3 linked regions of the Homo sapiens genome follow. The protein of the gene in region 3 interacts with the protein of the main gene of each other region in a pairwise test. Each region holds a gene or a part of one and is shown on either strand. Other genes may lie near its edges.

Evidence for each region. Proteins that work in one complex are often made in the same cells at the same time.
Region 1: the proteins of MMS19 (region 3) and RTEL1 interact in binary tests that used the Homo sapiens proteins (3 or more experiments, as listed by UniProt).
Region 2: the proteins of MMS19 (region 3) and CIAO3 interact in binary tests that used the Homo sapiens proteins (3 or more experiments, as listed by UniProt).

Annotation. Positions count from the first base shown.
Region 1 is NC_000020.11:63,674,479-63,682,948, reverse strand, and holds part of RTEL1 (regulator of telomere elongation helicase 1), read right to left. Parts: intron 5,306-8,470; exon of another isoform or gene 4,805-5,305; coding exon 4,766-4,804; exon of another isoform or gene 4,682-4,765; coding exon 4,603-4,681; exon of another isoform or gene 4,574-4,602; intron 3,101-4,573; coding exon 3,003-3,100; intron 2,286-3,002; coding exon 2,230-2,285; intron 1-2,229. UniProt on the Homo sapiens protein: A probable ATP-dependent DNA helicase implicated in telomere-length regulation, DNA repair and the maintenance of genomic stability. Acts as an anti-recombinase to counteract toxic recombination and limit crossover during meiosis.
Region 2 is NC_000016.10:737,361-746,166, forward strand, and holds the start of CIAO3 (cytosolic iron-sulfur assembly component 3), read right to left. Parts: upstream 3,638-8,806; 5' UTR 3,626-3,637; coding exon 3,560-3,625; intron 2,744-3,559; exon of another isoform or gene 2,662-2,743; intron 2,379-2,661; coding exon 2,283-2,378; intron 1-2,282.
Region 3 is NC_000010.11:97,457,246-97,461,314, reverse strand, and holds the end of MMS19 (MMS19 nucleotide excision repair protein homolog), read left to right. Parts: intron 1-307; coding exon 308-408; exon of another isoform or gene 409-495; intron 496-563; coding exon 564-620; intron 621-1,082; coding exon 1,083-1,269; intron 1,270-1,573; coding exon 1,574-1,656; intron 1,657-1,788; coding exon 1,789-1,953; intron 1,954-2,032; coding exon 2,033-2,092; intron 2,093-2,414; coding exon 2,415-2,515; intron 2,516-2,595; coding exon 2,596-2,623; 3' UTR 2,624-2,991; downstream 2,992-4,069. UniProt on the Homo sapiens protein: Key component of the cytosolic iron-sulfur protein assembly (CIA) complex, a multiprotein complex that mediates the incorporation of iron-sulfur cluster into apoproteins specifically involved in DNA metabolism and genomic integrity.

The sequences.
Region 1 (8,470 bases), on a different chromosome or scaffold from region 3:
AGCCCAGGGCAGCTCCGGCCTCAGGCAGAGAGGGATGAGGACCCAGCAGTCTCACGGGGGCCCAGGGGCAACTGGTTCCCCAACACGGGCCAGCACTGCCCAGAGTTTGCCTCCAGCTAAGCCCTGACTTCCGAGCACACGGCCTGACCCTGCCTGGAGTTCGCCTCCAGCTGAGCTGTGCATCCCACATCCTCTTCCTGGGGCCACTGGCCCCACTCTGCCCCCAGGGTCACCTGTGACTCAGGGCTGCAGGCCCAACCCAGCACCAGCCCTATGGGCACCGCCCACACCTGCAGGGGCTCAGGAGCCAACGCGGGTGAGCACTGTGTGCAGTCCCTCATCCTCCAGGCACCCGAGGGCTGGCAGAAGCTGAGTCATCCACCAGCGGCTACTTAGAGCAGCAGCCAAAGGAAATTCCAAACCGATGGAGTGTGCAGGATTCGGTTCCAGAGTGTGGAGTCTTCTCCTTAAGTGGGGGCCTGGGAGGCCACGTTCCAGGATCCGGTTCCAGAGTGTGGAGACTTCTCCTTAAGTGGGAGGCTGGGAGGCCGCGTTCCAGGATCCGGTTCCAGAGTGTGGAGTCTTCTCCATAGCTGGGGGCCTGGGAGGCCGCGTTCCAGGATTCGGTTCCAGAGTGTGGAGTCTTCTCCATAGCTGGGGGCCTGGGAGGCCGCGTTCCAGGATTCGGTTCCAGAGTGTGGAGTCTTCTCCATAGCTGGAAGCCTTGGAAGCCGCATTCCAGGATTCAGTTCGAGTGTAGGAACCTCAGAAGCCACATTCTAGGATTCAGTTCCATAGTGTGGAGGAGACTTCTCCATAAGTGGGAGCCTGGGAAGCTGTATTCCAGGGAGGGACAGGCCCGGGCCAGCTCACACCTGCCCTCCAGGCCCTGGGCTGCAGGGCTACCTCGCCTGGCCATGTGCTGGAGGTGCTTTGCAGTGACCCATCAGGGACATGGAAGCAGGTCCGCCTGATAGGTGCACGGCCTCCTGCTTGAAGAGCCAACCACACTCCATGCGGGACAGCACAGCAGCCCTTGGCAGGCAGGAGCCACAGACAGAGGGGTCTGGGCCTGGGATGCCCACCGTGCCTTTGGGGAGGAGTTGGGAGGACAAGGCAGTGCTGTCCTTCCAGCCCCAGCTACCGCACAGAGAAGACACAGGCTGTGGCGTCACTGGCCACAGAGACGGCCACAGTGGAGGGAGGGCTGAGCCTGGGCCCCACCACCCTGTGCCCACCCCACCTGGTCCCTGCCCAGGTCTCGCCCCCGCTCAGAGCTGCGTCTGTGAAGGAGAAGGCAGTGCCTGCTTGTTCCGGGATCTGCAGCTCCATGCCCAGCAGCATGCACAGGCCAGCCATGCATCCCAGGGTTCTTCTGCGGCCTCCCCCAGCTCAAGCACCCCACAGGCCAGATGGACACTCATGAAGCTGTCATAGCGCTGGGCAGCCCTGCCTAACCCTGCCATGATCTCGTGTGGCCAGCAGGTACAGCGTGGGCAGCACAGAGGAGGCCTCACAGGGCTCCACACAGCCACCTGTGCCTTGGCTTCCCCAGTCAGGGACTTCTGAGTCTGCTTCTAAAAAAGCCACCGAGGCCCCGGAGAGGCAACGTGCCCAGAGCACCCAAAATGGGGCGTGCCCTCCACAAACCGGACAAGCACCTCTACGCCAGGGAAAGCAGGTGCTGCCATAGGCATGGAGCCAGAAGCAGACCTCACATGGGACGGGCATTGCAGGACAGGACGGGGCCAATGAGAAGGGGGCCAGGGTCGCACCCCCAATCATGGGCTCCCAGGGACACCCCTGCCGGGAACCTGCAGGGTCCCCATTTGTCTGTCCCTGGAGAAGCTGTTCAGGAAGCCGCGTGTGTCCAGAGCTCTTCATCTGCGTGCAGCTGGGGCTGCTGGGGCTGCCAGCAGTGGGTCCCCCCTGGCCTGAGGGCCCGGACAGGGCAGGAGCGGCTCCCCGGCCCCCACTGTCCTTTGCGTCCTCCCTCACCAGCATCACCCTGGGCATGTGCCACCAGACCTCGTCCTCCCCCATCCCTGCAGGAGGCCCAGTGTGGGTTTAGGGCACTGGAAAGGAGCCGAGAGTTTGCCAATCAGAAACAGGTGGTGTAGGGGCCTTTCTCCCATCCCCAAGTCTAGAATCAGTTAACTAATACAGCAGGAGAAGGCACCCGCCCGGCTTCCATCAGGGAAGGAGATGCCACAGAGGAGCAGGCCCCACCTGGATAATGTCCGCCAGCTTCTGCAGTCCGGCCGTGTTGGTGAACACTCCAGCACCTGGAGGGCAGCAGGGCGCTGACACCCACACTGCAGGCAGGGGAGGCCCCGACCCCAGCCCCGGCCCTTCCAGCATGAGCCCGCTCAGCCCGACTGCCAAGCTCCATCTCCTGCCCAATGGGGGGCCCAGGGTGGAGCGCAGCATCCATTCAGGGCGGGCAGTTCGCCTGCTCTTCCCAGCAGCCAGGAGAGAAGCCAGGCAGGGACAGAGTCTCCAAGGGGGTCAGTGGGACTTGAAAAGAGGCTCTATGGTCGCCTAAGGGTTGAAGCAGCAAAAGCCACCCTCCCCAGCACCCGGGAGCGCAGCAGAGGAGAGACCCCGCTGGGCCCGGCGTCTCAAACCAGAGCAGCCCATGGGGACACCGCCTCTGGGCAAAGCCTCTGGACCCCACAACTCTGAGAAGCAGAACTCGGGGTGGTGTGGAGAAGCCAGAGGCCCCACAAGCCAGCTAGGGCCTTGGGCTGCTCTTTCTCAAAAGCAGAATAATGGGATGAGGCTGTAGGACGAAGCCGCCAGCTGCAGAACTGGGACAGGCTCTACGGCAGCTGGCAAGTGGCACTAACGCCTCCACGCCCCGATCAGAAGATGAGGTTCTGTGGGCCTGTTCCTGCTGACGGCCAGGTGACGGCCAGGGGAGCCCTGACTGCCAAGATGGAGGCCTGCTGCACCCCCTACGCCACATTTGCCCGCACCAAAGACCCCGTGCCAGCACTCACGTCCTGCCAGGTGCTGGATGATCTGGTCCAGCGAGTCCAGGATGCAGCCCTTGGTCTGAAACGTGATCTGGGCTTCAGCAAACAGCTCAAAGATGTAGCTGCCGAGGAGAAGAAGGCAGGCTCGAGCCTGGCGGGGGGACCAGACTGCAGCTTTGGGAACTGAGGAGAAGAAGGCAGGCTCGGGCCTGAGGGGGGACGACACTGGTCAAAGATGTAGCTGCCGAGAAGAAAACAGGCTCGAGCCTGGAGGGGGAAATCAGGCTGCAGCTTTGGAACTGAAGGCAACAACTGTGGAAGTTTCCTTCCCTCGGAAACAAATTCAGCCCTCCAGGGGACGCCAGCATTGGAGGTGAGAGGCCTCCGCCCTCAGGAGCCTCCAGGTGGGGAGAGGAGGCCTGGCCAGCACGAGAACAGCACCGAGGAAAAGAAGCCGCCTCAGAGCAGGGGCCGCCGTCAGAGGGGAGGGATGGGGTCACTAGGGGGTCGTCAAGAGGTTGTCAGGGGCTTCTGGGAGGCGGTGGCTCTGGGCAGAGTCCCCAAAGCTTTGGAGAGTGACAGTGATGGGGCAGCAGAAGCTACAGGAGGGGACCCTGAGGGTGCAGGGTGGCCGAGGAGCCAGGCCAGAGCCTTGAGCATTACGCTGAGGACAGTGGCTCCACCTGGAAGCAACTGGGATTCCCCCGACCAGGTCGGCGCTCAGGCAGAACACGCTCCACCTCGGCGGCTGTGCGCTCAGGAGAGCCCCCACACAGGCCCCAGCCCTGACTCCTCATCTGCCTGCAGGACAGACAGCAAACCCTGCTGCCCTGGCTGCGGAGAAGACTGGAGCCCCACGGAGCGTTCAGAACGTTCCAGGCCTCCCGGAGTCCAAAAGAGGTGGTGGCTGGGACACTCATCGTCCTAACAAGAAGGTCTCGTTCTAACAGGCACCTGTGCTCAAATGACGGACTGGACCAGGGTCCAGGGAAAGGCCTGGAGGAGGAGAAACTGCAGGAAACCCAGCGGCCCCGCGTGGGAGAGTGTGCTGTTCCGTGGGTGTGTGTGTGCTGTCTGTGGGAGTGTGTGTGCTGTTCCGTGGGAGAGTCTGCTGTTCCGTGGGAGTGTGTGCCGTTCCGTGGGTGTGTGTGCTGTTCCGTGGGAGTGTGTGTGCTGTTCCGTGGGAGAGTGTGCTGTTCCGTGGGAGAGTGTGCCGTTCCGTGGGAGTGTGTGCCGTTCCGTGGGTGTGTGTGCTGTTCCGTGGGAGTGTGTGTGCTGTTCCGTGGGTGTGTGTGCCGTTCCGTGGGTGTGTGTGCTGTTCCGTGGGAGTGTGTGTGCTGTTCGTGGGAGTGTGTGTGCTGTTCGTGGGAGTGTGTGTGCTGTTCCATGGGTGTGTGTGCCGTTCCGTGGGGGGCTGTGTGCTGTCCCGTGGGAGTGTGTGCTGCTCCTCTCAACATCTCAGCAACCAGATCATGCAAAGCAGGTGCTCCTCCCAGGTCTCAAAAAGGGAAAACAGGCCTGAAAACAGGCCTCACTCGTGATGTGACAGCCCAGGACTGCACCATGGCCCGTTTCTAGCTCTAGGCTGGGCCTGCAGTGAAGGGGCTGGCTCCCCGCCTCTCACCTCCCTGGCTTGGTGACACCGCTGTCGTCTCCAGGCAGCTCAACAGCATCGATGGCCCCCTCCAGGCGCAGCAGGATCACTGTGGGTCGAGGAGGTGTCACCCACCTCCTCGCAAGGAGGAGGCCCCACCCAGCTGCAAGGAGGCGGGGAGGGCAACACTTACTCTTCAGCTTTGCAATGTCTTCCAGCTCCATGTTCAGCCCTGGGCAAGAGAAAGGCAGCAAAGGCAGTCTGCATCACGCTCGTGCCAACAACCCCGCCCTTGAGAACCAGGATTCCTGGCATGGAAAAAAGGACACCAACATGGAAAGGAAGAGGCCACACAGAATCCATGCAGGCCAAATCCACCAACATGGGAAGGAAGAGGCCACACAGAATCCGTGCAGGCCAAATCCACCAACAGGGGAAGGAAGAGGCCACACAGAATCCGTGCAGGCCAAATCCACCAACAGGGGAAGGAAGAGGCCACACAGAATCCGTGCAGGCCAAATCCACCAACAGGGGAAGGAAGAGGCCACACAGAATCCGTGCAGGCCAAATCCACCAACAGGGGAAGGAAGAGGCCACACAGAATCCGTGCAGGCCAAATCCACCAACAGGGGAAGGAAGAGGCCACACAGAATCCGTGCAGGCCAAATCCACCAACAGGCGAAGGAAGAGGCTACACAGGCCAAATCCAAACTGGAGACACCAAGAGGAGCAGGTGTTTTATCTTTATTTATCTATTCATTTTTGAGACAGGGTGTCACTCTGTCACCCAGGCAGGGGTGCAGCAGCGCCATCTCTGCTCACTGCAACCTCCATGTCCCAGGTTCAAGCAATTCTCGTGTCTGTCTCCCGACTAGCTGGGACTATAGGTGTGCGCCACCATGCCCGGCTAATTTTCGCATTTTTAGTAGAGATGGGGTTTCACCCTGTTGCTCAGGCTGGTCTTAAACTCCTGACCTCAGGTGATCCACCAGTCTTGGTCTCCCAAAGTGCTGGGATTACCGCTGAGCCCTTATGCCTGGCCGGGTGTTTGACCTTTAGAATTAACATTTGTGAACACACCTGTGCGTATGGCTGTATCTCCACGAAAACACCCAGTAACAACGACCAACCCAGTAACCATGACCAACCCGCTGCCGCATGGCGGGTCTTGAAATACCGTCTTGCAGGAAAAGAAAGCAGGGCTTCTTGGAGACTTGGCTGATTCCAGGTCTGGAGCAGGACATGAGTGTGAAAAATCCTGACTCCCAGACAGCAAAGAGGCCACAACCGCCGGGGTCAGGACACAAGAGCCCACATGAAAACACCTCAAGGTGCAGCAACTGAGGTCAGGAGTGAGATTCAGGAGGGAGCATGGGGCAGGACCAATCCCCACGTTCACACACAAACATTCAGTGATGACACTTGATTGACTGATTGATTTTTGAGACGGAGTCTCGCTCTGTCGCCAGGCTGGAGTGCAATGGTGCGATCTCGGCTCACTGCAACCTCCGCCTCCTGGGTTCAAGTGATTCTCCTGCCTCAGCCTCCCAAGTAGCTGGGATTACAAGCATGCACCACCACACCTGGCTAATTTTTTTGTATTTTTAGTAGAGACGGGGTTTCACCGTGTTGGCCAGGATGGTCTCAATCTCTGACCTCGTGATCCGCCTGCCTGGGCCTCCCAAAGTGCTGGGATGACAGGTGTGAGACAGCACACCCGGCCCACCCCCAGCATTTGTCCCACCTTTCCTGTGTGAATGGGATCACCACATAGCTGATATGGTGCAGGGCGTGGTCCTAAGTTATTCCTGCTAACTGACTAGATGATGGAATTAGCACACTGCCATCTTGCAAGCCCCCAGTGATTAACATATTCAGGTGTTCAGCAGCAACAATGTTCACATGGGAAGAAACGGGAAAGGAGATACTGTGAGCCTTCTGATAGAAAGGACGTCCCATCTGGAGCCCGGCAAACGGTGGCCGCAGTCTAACTGGGGCCCTCAAGCCACCTAAGTTCAGAGTAAACCGGGGAACTCGTGTGGCTGCCCCTCCTGTACAGATTCCGACTCTGCAGGGTAAACGGCCTGGGCTCTTCAATAAATAAAGTGTGAGGAAAAGAATGGACCCTGCCAAGCACAGTGGCACACGCCTGTAGTCCCAGGAGCTTGGGAGGCCGAGGCAGGAGGATCACTTGAGCCCAAGAGGTGGAGGCTGCAGGAGGTGGAGGCTGCAGTGAGCCGTGATGGCACCACCGCTCTCCAGCCTGGGTGACAGAGTGAGACCCCATCTCCAAAGGGGTGGGGGAACAGATAGGGATGAAAACTGAAGTTCTGGTCCTGAATGAGATGGCAGAAGCCCACCCCACCACACGTCCCCCACTAGTTACAACAAAAAGCCCTGCACATCAAGTAACTAACAAAACTGAAGAGTGGAGAAGGCCCCGTGGTGATGTTCACACAGGCCTGGGGGTGGGTGGATGTTTCTCCCACGTTATGTAAGCGATGAAATGGCAGCTGCCGAGATGAGGGAAGGAGACCTGTCACTCTCCCCACCCTGCGCCAAGCGAAGGATGGAAAGAGGCGGCCGTCCACCCCGTTAGAGAGGTGGGGTTGGGGGACTGTGGAGAGGAGGGAGGTGGAGCGTTCAAAGTCCCAGGAACCCCTTCCCCCACTGCAACTCCCTGCGTGGCAATCTTGAGAGCCGGTGGCAGTGGTGCACACCTGTGGTCCCGGCGCTTTAAGACGCTGAGACGGGAAGATCCCATGAGCCCAGGAGGCCGAGGCTACAGGGAACTTTGATTGTACCACCACATTCCAGCCTGGGCAACAGAGTGAGACCCTGTCACTTAAATATATGTATATATATATATATATAAAGGGATTCTAAAGCCAGAACACCTGATAACTTCTGTACTAAACAAATGCCAACTTTGCAAACTCACTCTCTACCAAGCAGCCATCCTGGTGAGAAGGGTGAGGACGGGGCTCCCCAGGGTCCAGGGTCCCCGTGGTGTCCGTCCACATGTGCGATTTTAAAGGAAAATGGGGGAAGCTGATGCTGTTTACACCTGGAGATGCTCACGAGCAAGTAGTGTCACAGCAGAACCTATGAAGATATTCACACAGACTCCTAGTCAGCTGTTTACAGAAGCCATGTAGAAAATATGGACAAAGGCCGGGCGTGGCGGCTCACGCCTGTAATCCCAGCACTTTGGGAGGCCGAAGCGGGTGGATCACGTGAGGTCAGGAGTTCGAGACCAGCCTGGCCAACACGGAGAAACCATCTCTACTAAAAATACAAAATTAGCTGGGCGTGGTGGTGCACGCCTGTGATCCCAGCTACTTGGGAGGCTGAGGCAGGAGAATTGCTTGAACCCAGGAGGCGGAGGTTGCAGTGAGCCAAGATCGCGCCATTGCACTCCAGCCTGGGCAACAAAAGTGAAACTCCATCTCAAAAAAAAAAAAAAGAAAGAAAATATAGACCAACTGACAACATCCATGAAGGGTTTCCACGTTTTCCACGTATGCCGTGACTAGCGCTGTGTGGAAATACACCTCTGGACAAACACTGGGAAGGAACCTACAGGCAGAGCAGCTGATGCATGCCAGATTTGTGGGTCATTTAAAGATGCAAAATGCCCTTACAGTGAATATATTTAGTTTTCCTTTTTTTTTTTTTTGAGATGGCCTCACTCTGCCGCCCAGGCTGGAGTGCAGTGGAGTCATCTGGGGCACCGGAAGCTCTGCCTCCCAGGCTCAAGCACGCCTCCCACTTCGGCCTCCGGAAAAGCTTGGACCACAGGAGCACACCACCACACCTGGCTAATTTTTTGGCAGGGGCGAGGTTCCGCCATGTTGCCCAGGCTGGTCTCAAACTCCTGGCCTCAAGCGATGCTCCC
Region 2 (8,806 bases), on a different chromosome or scaffold from region 3:
CCCCCTCTGCACGAGGACATGGAGACAGAGGATAGTGGAGTCCAGCTCATAACCGACAACCAACATGGCTGCTGGCTGGGCTTGTGTGCCGCTGAATTTTTAAAAATTAGGTATGTATTACAAAAATGCACACGCACGCTCTACAGTTTCATAATGCCGTCAAGTCTGCTTCTTGGTACCACTTGGTTAGTGCATCCGAATCACAGGACTAAGGCTTGCCACTGGTATCTCAGCAAAGCAGCAGCCACCCCACTCACCCATGGGGCCCTGGACGGGGTGCTGGCCCCGGTGCACACTCACAGGGCTGTAGGGCAGGAAAATGCCGAAGGTGGGCTCTGAAAGGAGGAGGCGGGAAAGCTGAGGACAAAGGAGGAAAGGACGAAGGCACAGGAAGAGGAGAGCAGAGGGAGGAAGCCTGGGAGCCTGGCCTCCGGTGGGCGGGGCAGAAACAACCGTCAGACTCGCCAAACAGATGCAGGAACAAGGTGTTCCAGTCGGGGGCCTCCGGGACATGCCTCAGCAACTTTTCTTACATGCAAAACGCACCCAGCTCGAGCTCCCCCAACTTCTCCTGCAAAGGCAGGAATGGTTTGAGCAGGGCCAGGGGTGCTGCAGTGGCCCGGAATACAGCCAGAGGAGTAAGGCGACTGGGTGGGAACTGTGTGGGAACCCCTCGCAGCCCAGCTCTCTGCTAGGCCTGTGTATCACAATCTGAGCTCGCCTTGTATTCCTACGTTGGTTCTGCCCCAAGGCACAAAGCCTTGCCTGCCACAGGGTGCTGGGCAGAGGCTGACAGGCTCCTCCAAACCAACTGCCACTGCACCGACAGCCACGCCTACCAGCACCCCAGCACCTTCCAGGGGTTCCCTTCGTTTGTGGGCTGGGCCCCCAGTGCTGGGCTGGAAATCGTCTCTTGGTGCAGTGGTTCATGAGATCAGGCAGACGTTTTTTAGAGTCCAAATGGCAGACAGGTGAATTTTAATAGTTTCTTTTTTTTTTTTTTTTTGAGATGGAGTCTCGCTCTGTCACCCAGGCTAGAGTGCAGTGGTGCGATCTCGGCTCACTGCAAACTCCGCCTCCCAGGCTCACGCCATTCTCCTGCCTCAGCTTCCCGGTAGCTGGGACTACAGGCGCCGGCCACCACGCCCAGCTAATTTTTTTTTTTGTATTTTTAGTAGAGACGGGGTTTCACCGTGTTAGCCAGGATGGTCTCGATCTCCTGACCTCGTGATCCACCCGCCTCGGCCTCCCAAAGTGCTGGGATTACAGGCCTGAGCCACCGCGCCAGGCCCAGTTTCTTTATTTTTTTGAGATGGAGTCTCTGTCTCTCAGGCTGGAGTGCAGTGGAGCAATCTTGGTTCACTGCAGTCCCTATCTCCCAGGTTCAAGTGATTCTCCTGCCTCACCCTCTTGAGTAGCTGGGATTACAGGCATGCGCCACGACACCCAACTAATTTTTGTATTTTTAGTACAGATGGGGGTTGGCCAGGCTGGTCTCGAACTCCTGACCTCAGGTGATCCGCCCCCCCTACCCTGGCCTCCCAAAGTGCTGGGATTACAAGCGTGAGCCACCGCGCCCAGCCTGAATTTTAACAGTTTCATCAGGATCTTATCACTTAGAGAGGAAGTACTATTCTTTAAGAATGAGGGGTCTGGGCTGGGCGCGGTGGCTCACGCCTGTAATCCCAGCACTTTGGGAGGCCAAGGCGGGTGGATCACGAGGTCAGGAGATTGAGACCATCCTGGCTAACACGGTGAAACCCCGTCTCTACTAAAAATACAAAAAACATTAGCTGGGCGTGGTGGTGGCCGCCTGTAGTCCCAGCTACTCGGGAGGCTGAGGCAGGAGAATGGTGTGAACCTGGGAGGCAGAGCTTGCAGTGAGCCGAGATCATGCCACTGCACTCCAGCCTGGGCCATCGAGGGAGACTCTGTATCAAACAAACAAACAAACAAACAAACAAAAGAACGAGGGGTCTGAATTAGAAAATCTTACATGGTTAGAACTAGGGGGAACAGGCAGACGCAGACAGGATCCACCATCTCTGCAAATAGCCCCTCTGCTGAGCAGATCAAGCTGTTTGGCCTGGGTGCTGCTCATTCACCTGCCCCAGGCACCCTGACCCCCAGCCTCCCAGATGGCAGGTGAATTCGACCAGTGGGAAAAGACTGGTGAGACCTGGAGTGTCTCGGGGTCACCGCTCTGTGACGGGAGGAAGCAGAGAAAAGTGTTTCGGATCAGCCGGGCAGGAGAGATGGTGGAGCAGCCTCCTGTGCCTTACTTGGTTAATTTGGAAGTAGCTCCCGTCATCTTCAATGCGAATCTTGGCCACGCCACTTCCCGCCCTTTTTTCCACTTTGACAGGCTTGATGCACTCCTAGAGCAGGAAGAGACCCCAAATCAGCCCCTGTGAGTGGGCGGAGGTTCCCTGGGAGGCCAGGCCTCAAGGATGGCTGCCCAGCCGCACAGCCTGAAGGCTCTGCCAGGAGCCATGCACTCAGGGACTGAGGCTGGTCCCACCGTCTTCTTCCTGCCCCACTGCTCTCACCCAGGGATCGGGTTCCCAACATCCTGCGGCACTGAAGTTCCCAGTGTGCAGGAAGGCCAGTGCTAACAGCGCCTGCAAACTACCCACCTGCGGAGACACCACCAACACTGACCTTCACCCTTCACGTGAACAGGGGGCGTGACCACCACAGAGACCAGAGTTGCACTGCCCATCGAGAGGACGTGTGCTTGGATCTGTTTGGAGACCACCTCCTGCTCAGTGCCCGGGAAACAAGTGGATTTCTCTCTCTTCTCCTTGAGAACCCTGGCAGCCCAGAAAGCCGCCTCCCAGCTCATCCCTGCCGGAAGCGCTCCCAGCAGCCCGCCTCTCGCCCTGCTCAGCTCTGGCCCCGCGGGGCTGTTGGACATGGACAGGCAGGTGCACCCAGAAAAGGGCGCCTGCAGCCTCCCGGGTTCAAGGGTAGCTGTCCGGCCCACCAGGGCGACGTTAAGGACAGCTCTACTGAGGAGCCACTGCGGGGCGTCTAGCGGGCCGCCCCTACTGCCCTCAAATGAGGTGGGGTCCCCACCGCACCCGTTTATGCAGATGCAAAGGCTGTGGCTTGGGGGTCCTGAGGCCTGACAAGGCGTCCTGCGCAGGGGAAGGGGAAGAGGCCCCGGCCCGGGCCCCGCCGCCCTCCAGCTGCGACCCAGGGGTCGGGTTAGGGTTAGGGATGTGTGGGAGCCGCCTCTGCTGCCTCCTCTGGGTTGGGCAGGCCGGCGCGAGCCCGCGACCACGGGACCCTCCCACGCAGCCCGCCCGGACACCATGGGGCACAGGAGCGGGTTGGGGGGCGCCGCCCTCCCTGGCCTCAGTTTCCTTGTTGGTAAGAAGCGGGCCTCAGTGTCTGAGGCCCCGCGCCCGGGTCGATAGAGTCCCTGACGGCCCAGACCGGGCTCCCGGGATTCGGATCTCATTCCTCAGGGGAGGAAGTGGGGCGCAGAGCAATTTCCCTCCGCGCGACAGGGCACCGAGCGCAGCCTCGACCCCGCCCGCCCAGGCCGGCCCACCTGAGACGGCCCGATGAAGTCATCCAGGTCCGTCAGCTGCAGCGCCCCGCTGAAGGGCGACGCCATGACGGCCGCACTGCCGCCGCGCGCAGGTGTCGCTAAACGGCGCGAAACGAAGTGGCTGGTTCCGCCACGCTGCCGGAAAGCGCCCCCAGGACGCATGCGCACCTCGTCCCGGGGCCGGCGCCCTCTGCTGACGAGCCCCGGCGCTGCGGCTCCCCGCCCACCTCGCGGGAACCCGGGACCTACCGCTTCGTCCACCTCCCGCGCGCCCCAGGCCCCGGGTTGGGGTGCAGGGGGCGCAGGGGTTGGTCGGGCCAGCGCCGCAGCTCCGGCCCCGGAGTCTCTCCGCCTTCACAAGGAAGCGGAGGGGATCTGGCTCCGTCCATTTCCTCATCCTCTGCGTACCTGCGGACCAGGTGCTCCCGGATGCAACCCAAGAACCCGGAACGCGCCTGGCACACAGGAGGCGCTCAGCTCGTGTTGGGGAATTCAGGCAGGGAAGAAAGCATGGATAGGCACGAGGTCTCCCCTTCCTGGGGAGCCGCTCCCAGGGCCTCCAGCCCCTTTTTCTGTTATCTTGGAGACCAGTCTGGAAAAGTCCATGCCCCTGGGAGACCCTGAAACAGGACCCTGTGGGCCGACTCGCTTTTCGTTTTTTTCTTTTTTTGAGACAGAGTCTCGCTCTGTCGTCCAGGCTGGAGTGCAATGGCGCGATCTCGGCTCACTGCAAGCTCTACCTCCTGGGTTCAAGCGATTCTCCTGCCTCAGCCTCCCGAGTAGCTGGGACTACAGGCGCCCACCACCACGCCCGGCTAATTTTTTGTATTTTTAGTAGAGACGGGGTTTCACCGTGTTAGCCAGGATGGTCTCGAACTCCTGACCTCGTGATCTGCCCGCCTCAGCTTCCCAAAGTGCTGGGATTACAGGCGTGAGCCACCGCGCCCGACCCCGACTCACTTTTTTTTTTTTCTTTTTTGAGACAGAGTCTCACTCTGTTGCCCAGGCTGGAGTGCAGTGGCGCGATCTCGGCTCACTGCAACCTCTGCCGCCTGGGTTCAAGCAATTCTCCTGCCTCAGCTTCCCGAGTAGCTGGGATTACAGTCACCTGCCATTGCATCCGGCTAATGTTTGTAGTTTTAATTAGAGACTGGGTTTCACCATGTTGGCCAGGCTGGTCTTGAACTCCTTACCTAGTGATCCACCCACCTCAGCCTCCCAAAGCGCTGGGATTACGGGCATGAGCCACCGCGCCTGGCCAGTTACATGTATATCTGGCATCATATGGCCAGTTACATGTCTAATGGCCAGTTTTATGGGGACTTTTCAGGAAACTCCTGGATCGAGGCTGGCATCTTTCCGGCCCAAGCAGGCTCAGCCCATGGAGATCTCACAGTGGCAACATCCTAGGTCCCAGCCTGCGCCGCACCCTCCCCAGGGTTCTAGGCCCTGATTCTGACCACATGTCCCCACCTGGATGCGGCCTGGGCACTCCTGCACCTGCCTGTGGGGTTTGGGCCACCAGCCTGTGTGGCCTTCTCCATCACCTGCAGCTGCTCCTCTCGGCCAGACAGGACTTTCTTCTGCTGCTGCACGGAGGAGCTTTCCCCAGCACCTGGGCCAGGTGAGCTTCCAGGTCCCAGCCATCCCGCCACCTGGCAATACCTGGCCGAGCTTGGAGATTAGGGGCTGAAATATCTTCTATTAAAAATAGAACAGGGGGTCGGGTGCGGTGGCTCACCAGCGCTTTGGGAGGCCCAGGTGGGTGGATCACCCGAGGTCAGGAGTTTGTGACCAGCCCAGCCAACATGGTGAAACCCCGTCTACTAAAAATACAAAAATTAGGCTGGGCGCGGTGGCTCACGCCTGTAATCCCAGCACATTGTGGGGCTGAGGCAGGTGGATCATTTGAGGTCAGGAGTTCAAGACCACCCTGGCCAACATGGTGAAACCCCATCTCTACTAAAAATATAAAAATTAGCCCAGCATGGTGGTTTGTGCCTGGAATCCCAGGTACTAAGGAGGGTGAGGCAGGAGAATCGCTTGAGCCTGGGAGGTGGAGGTTGTGGTGAGCTGAGATAGCACCATTGCACTCTAGCCTGAGCAACAGACTAAGACACTGTCTCAAAAAAAAAAAACTTATCAGGCGTGGTGGCACGTGCCTGTAGTCCTAGCTACTCGGGAGTTTGAGACAGGAGAATCACTTGAACCCAGGAGGCAGAGGTTGCAGTGAGCTGAGATCGCACCATTGTACTCCAGCCTGGGCGACTGAGCGAGACTCCATCTAAAAGAAGAAAGAAAAACAAAACACGAGGCCGGGTGCGATGGCTCACGCCTGTAATCCCAGCACTTCGGGAGGCCGAGGCCGGCAGATCATGAGGTCAGGAGATCAAGACCATCCTGGCTAACACAGTGAAACCCTGTCTCTACTAAAAATATAAAAAAAAAAAAATTATCCGGGTGTAGTGGCGGGCGCCTGTAGTCCCAGCTACTGGGGAGGCTGAGGCAGGAGAATGGTGTGAACCCGGGAGGCGGAGCTTGCAGTGAGCCGAGACGGCACCACTGCACTCCAGCCTGGGCGACAGGGCGAGACCCCGTCTCAAAAAAAAAAAAAAAGAAAAAAAATACGAAAGAAACTTAGTGCCACTGAAATGCAGTGGAGTGGGTTTACAGAAAATGTGAGAGTGAGGAGGGCTGTTGGGATAAGGGAAGGGTCTTTAGGTGAGCTTCCTCTTGCTGCTCCGGGTGGAGCTGGGGCGGGGTTCTTCATTAACTCACAGACATTTCCCTGGAGCCCCTGAGCTCTAGTGCCAACCTCGTGCCTCTGGGGTCCCTGCTTTCTGTTTTGCAGATTGTTTAATCATCGTCATTAGCGAGTATTTACCATGCACTTCCCACGTGCTAGTCCCTGAGCCAGGGCCAGGGAACCCAGGGAGGGCACGGGGGGACACGAGGGCCGGCTGGGGACATAGGGCGAGGCCGGCCGGACCCCAGGTTGCTGTGATGCTGTGACTGTGTATGGGCACCCCCTTTCCCTGGGCTGGAAGGGATGCCTGGTGGAGGCGTCTGCTCTGCGGGCACCCACAGGACCCCCCTTTGCCTACAGCCGCCCCCGGTGGTTGGGTGGGAGGTTGCATGCTAGCATCCTCTTGCTGGTCCGGGGTCATGATACTGGTAGAGCCACCTGGTCCCCTCTCCTGGGTTGGTGTCAGAGCTTCACCCTCGGAAGGGATCATCCTGTGCCTGTCTCCTGAGGCTCCCGTAACAAATGACAACACGCCGGGGTGAAAGCAACAGAGATGCGTCCCCTACTAGCTGTGGAGGCCACACATCTGAGGTCATGGTGTCATTCACCGTGCTCCCTCTGGAGGCTGCAGGGAGGACCCTTCCTGCTTTCTCCAGCTTCCAGGGGCTCCAGTTGTCCTTGGTCTGTGACTGTGTCGCTCCAGCACATTTTTTTTTTCTTGATACAGTGTCTTGCTCTCTTCCCAGGCTGGAGTGCAGTGGTGTGATCACAGCTCACTATAGCCTCAGCCTCCCGGGCTCAAGAGATCCTCCGGCCTCAGCCTCCCAAGTAGCTGGGACTACAGGTGTGCGCCACCATGCCTGGCTATTTTTACTGTTATTATTATTATTATTATTCTTTTGAGATGGAGTCTCACTCTGTTGCCCAGGCTGGAGTGCAGTGGCACCATCTCAGCTCACTGCAAGCCCCACCTCCTGGGTTCACGCCATTCTCCTCTCTCAGCTTCCCGAGTAGCTGGTACTACAGGCGCCCACCACCACACGTGGCTAATTTTTTTGTATTTTTACTAGAGACGGGGTTTCACCATGTGTTAGCCAAGATGGGCACAATCTTCTGACCTCGTGATCTGCCGGCCTCGGCCTCCCAAAGTGCTGGGATTATAGGCATGAGTATTATTATTATTTTTTGAGACAGAGTCTCACTCTGTCACCCAGGCTGGAATGCAGTGGCACAAGCTTGGCTCACTGCAACCTCTGCCTTCCGGGTTCAAGCAATTCTGCCTCAGCCTCCCAAGTAGTTGGGATTACAGGCTCCTGCCACCACGCCTGGCTAATTTTTGTATTTTCAGTAGAAATGGGGTTTCACCATGTTAGCCAGGATGGTCTTGATCTCCTGACCTCATGATTTGCCCACCTCAGCCTTCCAAAGTGCGGGGATTACAGGCGTGAGCCACTGCACCCGGCCTTTATTATTATTTTTTTTTGAGACGGAGTTTCGCTCTTGTTGCCCAGACTGGAGTACAGTGGCAGGATCTTGGCTCACTGCAGCCTCTGCCTGCAGGATTCAAGCGATTCTCCTGCCTCAGCCTCCTGAGCAGCTGGTACTACAGGAGTCCATCACCAGGCCTAGCTAATTTTTATATTTTTATTAAAGACGGGGCTGGGCGCGTTGGCTCACACCTGTAATCCCAGCACTTTGGGAGGCCGAGGCCGGCGGATCACAAGGTCAGGAGATCGAGACCATCCTGGCTAACGCGGTGAAACCCCGTCTCTACTGAAAATAGAAAAAATTAGCTGGGCGTGGTGGCGGGTGCCTGTAGTCCCAGCTACTCAGGAGGCTGAGGCAGGAGAATGGCGTGAACCTGGGAGGTGGAGCTTGCAATGAGCTGAGATCGCACCACTGCACTGCAGCCTGGGCAACAGAGTGAGACTCTGTCTCAAAAAAAAAAAAAGACAGGGTTTCACCATGTTGGCCAGGCTGGTCTCGAACTCCTGGGCTCAAGTGATCCTTCCACCTCGGCCCCCCAGTGCTGGGATTACAGCGTGAGCCACTGGGCCTGGCCTGGTTGTATCTTTTGGGAGGCTGCCCTTCAGCCACCACAGCCCTCATTTCAGGTTCTTGTGGGACCCTCGACAAAGAGATGCTTTCCACCTCCTAACCGGGTATGTGGCTCAGGGAGGCTGTGTGGGGGCTGGGCTGGCCCGCAAGGGGCGGGCGGGGTGGAGGTGGGGCCTGTGAGTCCGGTGGACGGGATGCAGCCCAGGTTGGCTGAGGGCCGGCAGGTGGTGCTGCGGAGCCCACGGGGGCCGGCAGGTGCCACAACCCCGTAAAGGGGGAATAAACCCCCCTCAGGTCAGGAGTTCCTGGGGAGGAGAGCTGAGTTTTCCAAAATTAACTAATTTTTCCTGAACGTCTGATTTCAAAACGTTTACTGAGCTTTCCTGTGTTCCATCAAGGCCTCTGCTTCCAGGAACTGGGAAAGGAGAGGTGGGGTCACTGCG
Region 3 (4,069 bases):
TTATAGTACCTAAGAAGAGAAGGGAGCACAAAGAGTCTAGTTCTGCCGTCCTACTCCCTACAGTGGGGCTAGTGTGGATAATTCTTTATTGGAAGTAGATGACCCTCTCTTTTCAAATGGCAGCACCTCTGTATTATGAGAATACCAGGCTCTTATGCAGGTGTCCAATCATTTTGTCCACAGGCAAAAATGATATTTTCCCTTTCTAACAGCTTCTCAGGGAGCTCTGCACTTAAAGTGATTTGCATTTCATTGCTAAAGGGAAAATGTGTAGCCTTTATGTCAGCATTTCCTCTCTCCTTTTTAGGGCAGCAGCTGGATGAATTCCTACAGCTAGCTGTGGACAAAGTGGAGGCTGGCCTGGGCTCTGGGCCCTGTCGTAGTCAGGCCTTCACTCTTCTTCTCTGGGTAAGGAGTTGGAGTGGAGTCTGGTTAGCCAGAGAGGCAATTATGTCTGGTTAAATAAAATGTCCCTGTTTGACCCTAAACCATAAACATCTATGTCTCAGGGTTCTCGGGTTTGAGTGTCATTCCCCAATTGCTCTCTCTGTCTCCAATTACAGGTAACAAAGGCCCTAGTGCTCAGATACCATCCTCTCAGCTCCTGCCTTACAGCCCGGGTACGTCCTTTCTGGAGACAGAAGAACCCAGGACCTAAACAAACTTTCTGGTTGCTCCTATTCCTCCCAAGGACTTCCATCCTCCCCTGTGTGTTTTTTGTTTTCTTTTCTTTTTTCTTTTTGGAGACAGGGTCTTACTCTGTCACCCAGGCTGGAGTACAGTAGTGCAATCACAGCTCACTCCAGCCTCAACCTCCGTAGGCTCAAGTGATCCTCCCACTTCAGCCTCGCAAGTAGCTGGGACTACAGGGGCACCCCACCACACCCAACTAATGTTTGTATTTTTTGTAAGAACTGGGTTTGGCCATGTTGCCCAGACTCCTAGACTCAAGCAGTCCACCTGCCTTGGCCTCCCAAAGTGCTAGGATTACAGGCATGAGCCACCACACCCGGCCCCATCCTTATCTTTGGCACTTAAGATTCTTCTTCCCTGATGTACCTCAAAGGCTCTTTTTTCTCCAGCTCATGGGCCTCCTGAGTGACCCAGAATTAGGTCCAGCAGCAGCTGATGGCTTCTCTCTGCTCATGTCTGACTGCACTGATGTGCTGACTCGTGCTGGCCATGCCGAAGTGCGGATCATGTTCCGCCAGCGGTTCTTCACAGATAATGTGCCTGCTTTGGTCCAGGGCTTCCATGCTGCTCCCCAAGGTGAGGAGTCTGAAAGAAGGTCCCCACATATACACATCTCTCCTTTGCTTGGCCACATTCCCTAAGATAATTTAGGGCCCGCTTGCTTCTTTAGAGCTATATTGTGGTCTGTGCCTAGAAGACTAAACTTCTAGATTCTTGTCCCACTTCTTCCTTTCATGGGCGTATCTTGCTTATTCTGAGCGTGAAGGGCTCTTTCACCCGTTTGTAGGCTGATGTCTCAGCCTCACCACAGATTGGAATTGATTTCTCAAGCTATATATCTAAGTCCAATTTCTCCCCTAAGCCTTTCCATTTTTTACAGATGTGAAGCCAAACTACTTGAAGGGTCTTTCTCATGTACTTAACAGGCTGCCCAAGCCTGTACTCTTGCCAGAGCTGCCCACGGTAAGTCCCACAGGCAGAGCTTCTAAGCAAAGGACAAAGCTATTCTTCCCCAGATGGGGCTAGAAAGGGGAGGGAACAAGAACCAGGATCTTCATGATGTGGCCATCCCCTACCTTGCCCATTGCCCCTTAGCTTCTTTCCTTGCTGCTGGAGGCCCTGTCCTGCCCTGACTGTGTGGTGCAGCTCTCCACCCTCAGCTGCCTTCAGCCTCTTCTACTGGAAGCACCCCAAGTCATGAGTCTTCACGTGGACACCCTCGTCACCAAGTTTCTGAACCTCAGCTCTAGCCCTTCCATGGTGCGTTGAGCCCCAGCAACTCTTAGGCACCAGCATCTCTCCCTGGGCATGCTCTCACCTCCTTGTGGTTGTGTTCCAGGCTGTCCGGATCGCCGCACTGCAGTGCATGCATGCTCTCACTCGCCTGCCCACCCCTGTGGTAAGTACCTCAGGTGTCCTTCCCTGGCCTGGGAACATCTCAAGAGACACATAAGTACCTTTTTGCCTTAGTCAGGTGGGCTTGGCCACCCTGGTGTGTAATTGAGATCTGAATTACAAGGTACAGATCTTGTAATTCTGGGCCCAAGGATTCTTTTCCTTGGGCCCAGAAGGTAACAGAAAGGCCATCCTGCCACTTAACATCCCTTGGAATCACTAAAGATGTTTTGCTTTCCTCAGAATATTAGTTGTACAGAATCAAAAAAGCGGTACTTTCAGTTGCCTTGGATGAGCAAGGTTGATTATATCCTCTGACTCCACAGCTGCTGCCGTACAAACCACAGGTGATTCGGGCCTTAGCCAAACCCCTGGATGACAAGAAGAGACTGGTGCGCAAGGAAGCAGTGTCAGCCAGAGGGGAGTGGTGAGTTTCTAGGTCGTGGGGAGAGATGGGACCAAGATGAGCCTCATCACTAATGCTGCCAACTTTCTTTTTGCCTACAGGTTTCTGTTGGGGAGCCCTGGCAGCTGAGCCCTCAGTCCTGGCCTAGACTGTTCTGACAATCTAACCTGGGATTACTAACTGTTGAGCCATCTTCCCCAAAGCAGGGAAACCACTGGTCTCTGACTGCCTTTCCCACAGACACAGCACAAATGCTAGGCCTCTGTTGCATGGCTGTACAAAGAACATAAGAGTCCATATTTCTAGTGGATTTGTAAAATAAGTGTGTGTGAGACACTTGCGTTTGAAGAAAGATCTAGGGTCCTGGGTCTCTTGCATTTATATGTCAGAAAAGGGGCGATATGCTGCTGAGGGGTGAGTGCATATGAGTGTGGCCCTGAGGACCAGGGCTGGCAGATGTTGTCTACCTGCTGAAGAATAAAGATTTCTTTTGGTAATGGGGCTGTCAGATATTTCCCCCACCCCACATATGCCTCATATAACCAGAGGCATCACTGGAATAACAATGACAGGGATTGGCCAAAAATTTTTCAGGGTAACCAGGACAGTAGCACATGCCTGTAACCCCAACACTTCAGGAGGCTGAGGCAGGCGGATCACTTGAGGCTAGGAGTTTGAGACTAGCCCTGGCAGTATAGCAAGAACCCATCTCTACAAATAATTAAAAAAAAAAAAAAATTAAGCTGGGCATGGTGGCTGACGCCTGTAATCCCAGCATTTTGGGAGGCCGAGGCGCATGGATCAGTGGAGGTCAGGAGTTCAAGACCAGACTGGCCAACATGGTGAAACCCCATCTCCACTAAAAATACAAAAATTAGCCAGGTGTGGTGGCATACGCCTTTAATCACAGCTACTTGGGAGGCTGAGACACAAGAATCACTTGAGCCGGGCGCGGTGGCTCACGCCTGTAAAGCTTGTAATCCCAGCACTTTGGGAGGCCGAGGCGGATGGATCACAAGGTCATGACATCGAGACCTCCTGGCTAACACAGTGAAACCCCGTCTCTACTAAAAATACAAAAATTAGCCGGGTGTGGTGGCGGGCGCCTGTAGTCCCAGCTACTCGGGAGGCTGAGGCAGGAGAATGGCGTGAACCCGGGAGGCGGAGCTTGCAGTGAGCCGAGATCACACCACTGCACTCCAGCCTGGGTGATATAGAGCGAGACTCCGTCTCAAAAAAAAAAAAAAAAAAAAATCACTTGAAACTGGGAGGCGGAGGTTGCAGTGAGTCAAGATCGCGCCACTGCATTACAGCCTGAGAGACAGAGTGAGACTCCATCTCCAAAAAAAAAAAAAATGTAGGAAGCATGACCAGAACACCTACTCACTAGGTCTTGACCCTGACTTTCCCCTTCCCTGCCCTATCGTGAGGCAGAGAGTGAGAAGCTACATATCTTTAAAAATCGAATACCTTTATTTGTGCTCCCTTAAGCAGCATGTGAGAAGTGGCAGTGACCTCAGCAGCAGGCCTGGTATCTTTGCCCTGTTGAGAAGCCAAGATCTCAGCTGTACTAGT